4 separate regions of the Homo sapiens genome follow, and all the other regions are linked to region 2. The links come from fine-mapping of genetic effects on gene expression. A gene starts in region 2. Each other region holds a variant in brackets. All regions are shown on one strand. Distances are from middle to middle.

Region 1 (2,500 bases), 250 kb before region 2:
GTGAAATGACTCAGAAAGAGAAAGCCAAAAACTGCATGTTCTCACTCAGAAGTGGGAGCTCAACAATGGGTACACATGGACATACAGAGTGAAAGAACACATACTGGAGACTCCTCAAGGTGGGAGGGTGGAAGGGGGATGAGAGAAGAAGAAATCTACCTATTGGGTACAATGTCCACTATTCAGATGATGGGCAAACTGAAAGCCCAGCCTTCGCCACTATGCAGTATGTCCATGTCAGACAACTGCACTTGTGCCCCCTAAATCTATTTCAAATAATTGGTGATTCAGTATGTCCTTTGTAAAGGAAAGAGTATCTATTACATAGATAATCTTTGCCAGGGACTATCTGCGGTTGCAAATTGGAGAATCACAAGCAGTATCCTTCTGGCAGATATATTTGGTTTAGTCCCTGTTGAATCTAAACATTTTTCTTAAATTAATTGCCAACATTTTCAAATCATGAGATTTCATGCCAAAATCCGGATTTCAGGCATCTCATGAAAAATGGGAAGATTTGGCAGCACTGGACCTGCTGTACTCCCTCACGGCAAATTAGCAGAAGCTGAGCTGGCTTGATTCATTTATTACATCACTTACCTGGCCCCTGTAGGCATCTGAGTTAGTAACCCCTGGTCTACAGGTAAAGGGGCTAAAGGTCAGATACAACTCATCTCAGATGCTGGAAGCAGCTTTCTTAGTCGAAATAAGCAGCTGTCATTAGTCCAAATAGGGACGAACGATTTGACTTTAATATGAAATGTTTTATGTGGGCTATAAAATTATCCAAACTCGACACAGGACATTTTGAGCTTATTTCCAAATCATCTGGCCTTCATCTACCCACTGGAACTATTACTCTGCTGGGTCCTCATGGAAACATATCTTTCAGCCCTAACAATGAGACTACAGACATCTACGTCCCCAACACAACAGCTAAAAAGCAGTAGAATGTCAGAAAGGCTATCCACTTAGCCCTTGGCTGACAGGCCCCACTGAGCATCCTTTGCGAAGTCCATTTACTAGCTAATTCATAATTTACACAAGGCATTCAGACATAGCAGCTAAGATATAAAACATTTATCAACACAGGGACTAGTTTGTTATTTTAAAATAATTATGTTTAAGTAAGCCAATAAAGTCTATCTTCTCCAATTTACTTATTGAGCTTTATGAGGCAATTTAAGTCCCGATTTTGGGGGGTATGTATGAAAGGAGAGCATGGAAATGCCATTTGCTCCCTGAAGTTTTTAT[CTTTTTTTTTTTTT/C]TTTTTTTTTTTGAGATAGAGTCTTGCTCTGTCACCCAGGCTGGAGGGCAGTGGCATGATCTTGGCTCACTGCAACCTCTGCCTCCCAGGTTCAAGTTTTTCTTGCACCTCAGCCTCCTGAGTAGCTGGGATTACAGATACGTGCCACCACACCCAGCTAATTTTTGTATTTTTTAGTAGAGATGGGGTTTTACCATGCTGGCCAGGCTGGCCTTGAACTCCTGACCTTAAGTGATCCACCCACCTCAGCCTCCCAGAGTGCTGAGATTAGAGATGTGAGCCACTGCACCCGGCCTTGAAGTTTTTGTCTTAAAAACCCAGATCCTCAAGAGAAGACCAAAAAATGGTTGTGGTGCTCATATCTCTGAGACATCTTGCAGAGAGGTAATCCCTAAATGATGCAAATCTGGTGAACATAATGCACACAGGGGACAAACCAAACGGTGAAAACTGATGTTAAACTATAAATTTTAAGCCACGGACATTAGTGTGAAACTTTACAGCTTCAAACTTTCAAAACCCACACAAAAGAATTTGTACGACACTGATGAAAATTTAGACACTAGAGATGCTCAATCATGCGCTCTGTAAGCAAATCACACTTCATGGTTAATTTTGTTGCCAGCAGGATAATAAAGTGTGATACAAACTCTAGCACAGTCTCAGCTGCTGTTAAAGAGTCTGAATGGACAGGGCATTACAATCATTAAGAATGCAGCCACGCAATTCAACCAGTAGATGGGGCACATCCACATGGCAAGCGTCCTCACTGAACCAGCCAGGTGGGAAAGAATAGGCCCTGCTTCCTGCTCTATAGCCCCCTACCAAAGAGTTACAGAGATAGCCAAATGCAGAAGGTGAGGCTGCACCTCATCTCTAAAAGAAGTATTTGATTATTTCCTTAACTTCTCTTTCATTCCTATGACAATGTAAATAAAACGGGTGGAGACTGGTGGGATTAGGAGGAATCAGGGTTGACCACCTCAGAAGGGAGAAATATATTGAATCCACTCTATAAAAGCACCTCCTTCAGTAGTCAGTGAGTCGCTTATTCTTACTGGGGACCAGTGTTTACTGAGTGCTCATTCCATCCAGGCACTGCTGGAATTGGATGTTAGATCTACAAAGGGGAATTAGACAGGAATGGGATGTGGTCCGTGGAGACTGTGGCTTACTGACACTGAAGTCCTGCAAATGCCAGTCACCTGTGGCTACAAATCATGACAGGGAACT
Region 2 (2,743 bases):
TCTCAAATTGTGCACATACTGAGGTGACAACTGGTCTCTGTCTAAAGTATCCAGACTCAGGACAAAGAGGCACGCCTGGCTGGGGTCCGAGGTGTAGAACCTGGAGCCCTCGATGGCCGCTAGAATGTTTTGGTAACTTTCGGCGATTTTCTCCCCTTTTTGCTGTGGGTATACGTAGACTTTGAAGCCGTTTTTCTTGCAAAGGGTGAAATCGAAGCAGGACTCCATGCGGCACTTCTTGCCTTTGTAGATGCTGGAGTTGGCATCTCGCTTCTGCCGGGGGGAAATGTGCACGCTGGAATCCTCGTTTTCCAATTGATCCCAAGGAACGAAGGGGCGCAGAGCGTCCGGGAAGCGGGGCCAGAAATGATCCGGACTGGGGTGGTGCAAGCCATTCCTACCGCTGTGTTCTTCTCTCCGGCTGTGGCTCCTCGATGCCCTAAACTGCAAGCCTCCGAAATAAAACAAAAGGGCGAGACAAGAGCCAGCTGAGAGCAGGATGAAATAGCGTTTTTTGGCCTGCATGTGTCCTGCCTGGGTCAAGAGGATTGTAAATAAACACAAGAATCACCCAAGTTTCCCAATCAACACTTTCAGCTCCAGTCCGCCATCTTCCCGCCTGTAAAGACTTCAAACTCTCCGCTCCCACCTTCTCTGGATGCCTTTCCCCAAGCCGTGGACTGATCCAGCGCATGTGGGCGATTTCTTTAACTTTCTCCCCTTCGGTCTTTCATCTTTGGGTTGCACAATGCACGGGAGAGAGCGGGGCTGAATATCTCGCACCCAGGGCGGGCGAGCAGCGGACTGTAATTTTCTTGCATGCAACAAGACGGAGGAAAAGAAAGAGAGAGGGGAGAAAAAAAAAGCTCCCGATACCCAATCAATGGCAAGACGAAGTGATTGCCTTGCCTCTCGGATTCCTCTCGGCAGCGTGGAAAATGAGCCCCGGGAAGGCAACTTCAACTCATCCACCACTCTCCGTGCAGAGCACTCCGGTTCCAACAAGTCAGCCGATCCCGGGTTCAGCCGGCTAGTGCATCTTGCAGCTGGGGCGCCGTAACCTCACAAATCCCTGCATCTCTCTTTATTCCCTTCTGCAGCGGCTCCAAGACTCCGGCGGTGTTTACTCCTGCGCTCGCGGGGCCGGCCCCCGGGACGCGCGGCGGCCCGGCTGGAGGCGGCGGCGGCGGCGGCGCTGGGTGGCGGCGGCGGCGCGTCCTCCCCGCGGGCAGTGCCGGCCCCGAGCAGCGCTTCGCAGGCCCCCGCGCGAACGCTGCCGACCGCCGCGTTCGGTCGCCGAATGTTACCCGGTTCTGAATGTTACACTTACACATTCCATTCCCGACACGACAGCGCTGACCTCATCCATCCACGCAGCCCGCGCTGCCATTGGCCGAGCGTCACGTCCGGGGGGGGCGGTGCTTCCGCTGCGCCCATTCATAACCCCCGGCCGCGGGCCGAGGCGCCGGCGCGGCGTTGGGGGCGTAGGGGGCGCAGGGAGCCGGGGCTCCCGGGTTGCAAGCTGCCGGCGGGCTGCCGGGCAGGTGGAGCGCGGGACGGCCCGGTGCGAGCCCCGCGGCCCCTCGGCGCGCCCAGGCCCGGATCTCGGCCTGCGCCGTGCCGGGGACCAGAGGCGCCTGCGGAAACGCGGCGGCCGGGGAAGGAGGCACCGGCAGGGGCCCCGTGCCGCGCGGCCCCGGGCGCCCTGGAGAATCTGGCCTCCTGGGCTGCCTGCCGGAACGCCTAGAGAAAGATGCTTTGAAGGAGGGAAGCAGGGAGGAAAGGAAGACTTCATAGAAAGCGACCGCCGATCCGAAAGCTGCCTCTCCCAGCCCTCCTTCCACTCTCCGAGACCCAGTATTTCAATTTTCTGCTAAGCATTAAAACAATCTCCCCTTACTCCTCCTCTACATAGCACATTTTTTTAAACCAAAGAAACACCCCAATGCCCAACAATAAAGAGGAATTATTACAATCAAGAGGAATTGTTGCAATTCTTCATGCCTGCCTCTGTGCTAAGAGTGTAAGACGGCTATCCTAAATCCTCATTATCTACTTAGGCCGCCTTGCCTGAGCCCCCTCTGTCTATTATGAAGAAAGCTTCCAAGAGATCCAATCACAGAGAAAAAATAAATTTTCTAATGGCTGCAGGGAAACCAGTTAATTTAAGCTTGCCCCAGTCCTCAAAGTGATGTTATTCTCTTGGTGGTGGTGGTGGTGGTGGTGGTGTTAAAGATATCTCTTAAGGACATATGACTGGTAGAATTGCCAACTGTCCCAGCTATAGAAGGAACACTTGCATCAGGAAAACTACCTTATGTACAATTAGTGCCAAATAGTTGGTCCTTCCCTCACTGACCTCCCACTCCTTGGCCCAAGCTCCTGCCACTCCCAGTGGAAGAACTTCATTAGATAACTCAGGTAACCGAGGAGCAGTCCCGCTAAAGATCCTCCAGGTCCACAAAGATGTGCTAGGCTCCCAAACAGTATCTCTGGTCAAAGTCAAACTCCCTGGCCTCAGATCCTGAACACTGCTTTACAGAAAACACCTCCCACCCTCTGGCCTAGCTAAAGTCTCAGGGCTCGGGCAAGCTAGACAGTTGCCTAGGGCAGCCGGCTGTTTAGTGATTGTTTATTATGGGAGTGACTGAGAGCTAGGAGCAGACACTTCCCGGCTTCCCTCAGGCTGCAAAAACCCCAGCGGGGTGTGGATGAAGGGCAGGGTTATAACAAGGCAGTATGA
Region 3 (2,500 bases), 260 kb before region 2:
ATCTTTAAATCAAAGTCCTGCATAGAAAAAGAAAGCTGCTGGTAAGTGTTAAAGGAAAGGCTTGTTGCCAATAATATAAAACATGTTTATAAAATAATACCTTAGCATGTAGAAATAACAATGATAATGATGATATAACAGCCACACTGTTGAGAGCACACTCATTCGCTGAACACTATGCTAATTACATACAGTATTGCGTCCTAAGTGTCACAATCTGTAACACTAATACTATGGTCCCATTTCACAGCTGCACACCAAGGCTGACAGAGATGTGATAATTTGCCCAGAGTTATATAGCCAGAGAAGCATAACTAGAACCTGAACATAGCCCTCTGAATCTGAAGTAGATGCTGCTGAACTTCACTTGCATTTTTTTTACCAGCAGTTTTGATGCCATATGGAGAAATAGGTATAAATGAAATCTTTCAAAGCAATGAGCACTGAAAAGATTTTGGTGCCCATTGCAATGAGTAATTCAAATAATGAACTACTAAACCTTAAAATGCAGAACTTATATGTATGCTATGCTGACATTAAAATGGCTTGTTTATAGGTTTTCTGATTGCTGCATTCTGGATAAGATAAAGCAGTCATATCCTCTCTCCCCACTGCTTTGATAGGATGCTAAGCACATGTAAAGTTGTCGGAAATCATCTCAAACCTAAAACACCAAACTAAGTGGCAGGTCTGCTCAGCTAGTTGTAAATATGGGCCTAGCTTCACTTTATTGCACTTTGCAGATCTTGAGTTTTTGTTTTTGTTTTTAACAAATTGAAGGTCTATGGCAACCCTAAGCAAGTCTATCGGCACCATTTTTCCAACAACGTGCTCAATTCCTGTCTCTATCACATTTTGGTAATTCTCATAATATTTCAAAACTTTTATTGTTATTGTATGTTAGGGTGATTTGTGATCAATGCTCTTTGATATGTTACTACT[G/C]TAATTGTTTTGGGATGTCACAAAACTCACCCATATTAAGATGGTGAACTTGAAAAATGTGTGTGTTCTGACTATGCTACCAACCAGCCATTTCCCCTCCCTCTCTCTTTGGGCCTCCTTGTTCCCTGAGACACAAAAATATTGAAATTAGGCCAATTAATAACCCTACAATGGCCTACAAGTGTGCAAGTGAAAGGAAGAGTCACACGTCTCTCACTTTATTTATTTATTTAGAGACGGAGTCTCACACTGTCACCCTGGCTGGAGGGCAATGGTGCGATCTCGGCTCACTGCAACCTCCGCCTCCCAGGTTCAAGCGATTCTCCTGCCTCAGCCTCCTGAGTAGTTGGGATTACAGGTGCTCACCACCATGCCTGGCTAATTTTTTGTATTTTTAGTAGAGACAGGGTTTCACTATGTTGGCCAGGCTGGTCTCAAACACCCGACCTCAGGTGATCCACCCGCCTCGGCCTCCCAAAGTGCTGGGATTACAGGCGTAAGCCACCATGCCCGGCCGCATCTCTCTTTAAATCCAAGGCTAGAGATGATTAAGCTTAGTGAAGAAGGAATGTTGAAAGGCATGACAGGTTGAAAGCTATGCCTCTCATGCCAAACAGCCAAGTCATGAATGCAAAGGAAAAGTTCTTGAAGGAAGTTAAAAGTGTTACTCCAGTGAACACATGAATGATAAGAGGGAGAAACAGCTTTATTGCTGATTTGGAAAAGTTTTAGTGGTCTGCCTAGAAGAGCAAACCATCCACAACATTCCCCTTAAGCCAAAGCAGAGTAAGGCTTTTTCTTTTTTTTTTTTTTTGTGGGGGGACGGAGTCTCGCTCTGTTGCCCAGGCTGGAGTGCAGTGGCGTGATCTCTGCTCACTGCAAGTTCCGCCTCCCGGGTTCATGCCATTCTCCTGCCTCAGCCTCCCGAGTAGCTGGGACTACAGGCGCCAGCCACCACGCCTGGCTAAATTTTTTTTTTTTTTTTTTTTTTTTTAGTAGAGACGGGTTTTCATCGTGTTAGCCAGGATGGTCTCGATCTCCTGACCTCATGATCCGCCCACCTCGGCCGCCCAAAGTGTTGGGATTACAGGCGTGAGCCACCGCGCCTGGCCAAGGCTTTTTCAATTTTATGATGACAGAGAGAAATGTGGAAGCTACAGAAGAAAAGTTTGAACCTAGCAGAGGTTGGCTCATGAGGCTTTAAAAAAGAAGCCATTTCCATATCATAATAGCGCAAGGTGAAGCAGCAAGTACTGATCTAGAAGCTGCAGCAAGTTATCCATAAGATCATTGATGAGGTGGCTTTACAAAACAACAGACATGCAACGTAAATGAAATAGCCTTAGATTGGAAGAAGATGCCTTCTATGACTTTCATAGCTAGGGAACAGAAATCAATGACTGGTGTAAAGGTTTGGAAGGACAGGCTGACTCTCTTTTAAGAGGCTAATGCAGCTGGTGACTTGAAGTTGAAGCCAATGCTCATTTACCACTCCAAAAATCCTAGGACCCTTAAGAATTAACTTAAAAGCTGTATATTTAGCTTTAAAGCTAAATCT
Region 4 (2,500 bases), 20 kb before region 2:
TCCCAGCTACTCGGGAAGCTGATGCAGGAGAATTGCTTGAGCCTGGGAGACAGAGGTTGCAGTGGGCCAAGATAGGGCCACTGCACTCTAGCCTGGGTGAGACAGTGAGATTCTGTCTCAAAAAAAAAAAAAAAAAAAAAAAAAAAAAAAGCATGTGCCTGATAGATGACACCACAGAATTATATCCTTGTGAATCCTGTATACACAGGTTTATACTAAGGGATCAGAGTCCAGGAAAGCTGTTTTGTACCACAGGTGGTTGGCTGAGCATGGCATGCTGGTGCCTCATTCATTTGCAGACAGTTAGCAAGGAGGCTCTGGTCCCAAGGGCACAGTCTGTCCCTTCCTTCAATGGGGCAGCTGAAACACCAAAGAAGTCAAGGAGGGGACATCTTCTATTAGGAAGTTGCTAGAGAGTTCCGCTACAATTCTCTTCAATGAGTTCACTATCTCTCAGCCTGCTCCCCAAAAGGAGACAGTTTCAAAGAACATAAACTGCACCCGGCCAAGAACCGAGGCCTATCTTAGACAATACGATGCAGCTCAAGTTCCATAAAGCAGGCTTGTAGGGATATTACAGTTATGACCAGGAACCTACTTGTAGCTAAAGTGACAATCAAAGGCATGAGTTATTTCAAAGGTGCAAATCATCATCCGATTTTGGTAAATCTCTAATTTCACTCCTACTATTTCGAACCTCAAGGAGGGTAAAATATATAGAGATATGGATATATACCTTCTAAACTTACTTTTTCTATTCAACAGTCTCTGTGTTATTACAAAAAAATAAATAAGTCGGCCGGGCGCGGTGGCTCACGCCTGTAATCCCAGCACTTTGGGAGGCCGAGGCGGGCGGATCACGAGGTCAGGAGATTGAGACCATCCTGGCTAACACAGTGAAACTCCGTCTCTACTAAAAATAAAAAGAAAAAAAAATTAGCCGGGCATGGTGGCGGGCACCTGTAGTCCCAGCTACTCGGGAGACTGAAGCAGGAGAATGATGTGAACCTGGGAAGCGGAGCTTGCAATGAGCCAAGATCGCACCATTGCACTCCAGCCTGGGCGACAGAGCGAGACTCCATCTCACAAAAATAAATAAATAAATAAATCTAACTCTCCCTCTCTCTCT[C/A]TATATATATATGTATCTTCTAAACTTACTTTTTCTATTCAACATTCTCTGTGTTATTACAAAAAAATTAAGTAAATCTAACAATTCAGATCCAAAAGTTTTTCTGCACTAAAAGGCCACCATGACCAAAAGCCACTCATTCAACAAGTATTTCTTGGAGACCCACTATAAACTCAGCACTGGGTTAAGTGCTGGGAAACAGATTAAAAACAAATATACACCATCCCTGTTCTCATGAACCTAATTGTTATTCAAGGTTATAACTAACACAAGACTTAATCTGAGCCCAAGTCGAGTATAAAGTGTGAAATATCCAAATAACTGTCATTAAAATATATTTGGAGGAAAATAATGCAGAGAAAACATTTATCAGGCACATTTTTCCACCATGAAAGGAAATGCTATATACTTTGATCACAATATTTTTTTGTCTGTCACCCTAGGTCTGTATTTGAAAAGGAGATATAGAAAACTAAAAGTCCAGAATATACCATATCTTACCTTCTATTTGGGATCTAGAATTTCTAGACTAAAGAGGAGGCTACAAAAAGTTAATCAAATATGATATTTACTAAGCACCTATCAAGCAACCTACCACCTTGGAGGTGGACTCTGGGATACAGAGGAGAATGAATCAGCTTTACCCCTGAAAGTACAGAAACCTAGACAGTTAAAAACCAAATAATTATAATGCAAGGTAGAATGAGTTAAGGTCCCAAATGGGATTCAAGGGCTACAGCCACTGACTTACTGCCCCTGTCTAAATTCCAGAATTTTCCAAGGCCCTGAAAGACATAAGGAGGACGATCCAAGCCTGAATGCCTGGACCCCTAAAATTATACAGGGCAAGAGAATACCGGGACTAGGGGGACTTTCGAAAGTCCCTCCGCACGTGTTGGAAATCAACTCTTAGATTACCATCTCACCTGCCGGTGTGGACAGAAAAACGTGTAATACAAGCACCTGATGATGAGGCTGGTGATAACCAGGGAATGCCCTAGGCTGAAGGGCAGGCCAAATCACTGCTGATTTATTCTCTGCTATCTGAAAAATCACTAGGCCATTTGTAAAACCCCCAAGGGGGACTAAAATGACAGGCTTCAAATGACAGTTCTTACACCATGTCCTGAATAGGAGCAAACTGAGAAAGCTCCCAGGCCACACCATGCCTGGGAGTTCCAAAAGTGAGTATCTTATACTTTCACAGACATGTCCCAAAAATCCAATTAATTCATCTCATCTAATTAAAGGAGTTCATTGGAAATGCAATATGGTATTTTTATCGTGCTGCTGCTTGAATCTCCAAGTCAGTGAACTAGAAGAAAGAAATTTTTATTTTGTGGAGAAGATACAAGAAAACTTTGGGAAAAG

Direction of the effects. Positions count from the first base shown, and alleles are read on the strand shown. Sizes are in standard deviations (SD) of each study's normalised expression. Not every link is listed here.
For the expression in CD4 T cells of the gene that starts at base 1,305 in region 2, allele CTTTTTTTTTTTTT in region 1 goes with a lower level than allele C (large effect, 0.85 SD a copy in BLUEPRINT).

The links. PIP is the estimated chance that this variant, and not a neighbour inherited with it, causes the effect.
Region 1: its variant is fine-mapped to the expression of EXT1 in CD4 T cells (BLUEPRINT, PIP 0.95).
Region 3: its variant is fine-mapped to the expression of EXT1 in whole blood (INTERVAL, PIP above 0.99).
Region 4: its variant is fine-mapped to the expression of EXT1 in whole blood (TOPMed, PIP above 0.99).

What each region holds. Positions count from the first base shown.
Region 1 is chr8:117,860,234-117,862,733 of GRCh38, forward strand. The region is part of intron 1 of EXT1 (exostosin glycosyltransferase 1); the gene reads right to left. Among named protein-coding and RNA genes, the nearest start is that of SNORD168, 59 kb to the right of the region's middle. The variant CTTTTTTTTTTTTT/C (reference allele first, on the strand shown) is at 1,255.
Region 2 is chr8:118,110,522-118,113,264 of GRCh38, forward strand. It overlaps EXT1 (exostosin glycosyltransferase 1), which reads right to left and starts at 1,305. Exons shown (of 11, transcript NM_000127.3): 1 at 1-1,305. The coding sequence starts at 525. RefSeq lists silencers at 1,158-1,247, 1,348-1,727.
Region 3 is chr8:117,854,512-117,857,011 of GRCh38, forward strand. The region is part of intron 1 of EXT1 (exostosin glycosyltransferase 1); the gene reads right to left. Among named protein-coding and RNA genes, the nearest start is that of SNORD168, 65 kb to the right of the region's middle. The variant G/C (reference allele first, on the strand shown) is at 943.
Region 4 is chr8:118,090,660-118,093,159 of GRCh38, forward strand. The region is part of intron 1 of EXT1 (exostosin glycosyltransferase 1); the gene reads right to left. Among named protein-coding and RNA genes, the nearest start is that of EXT1, 20 kb to the right of the region's middle. The variant C/A (reference allele first, on the strand shown) is at 1,130.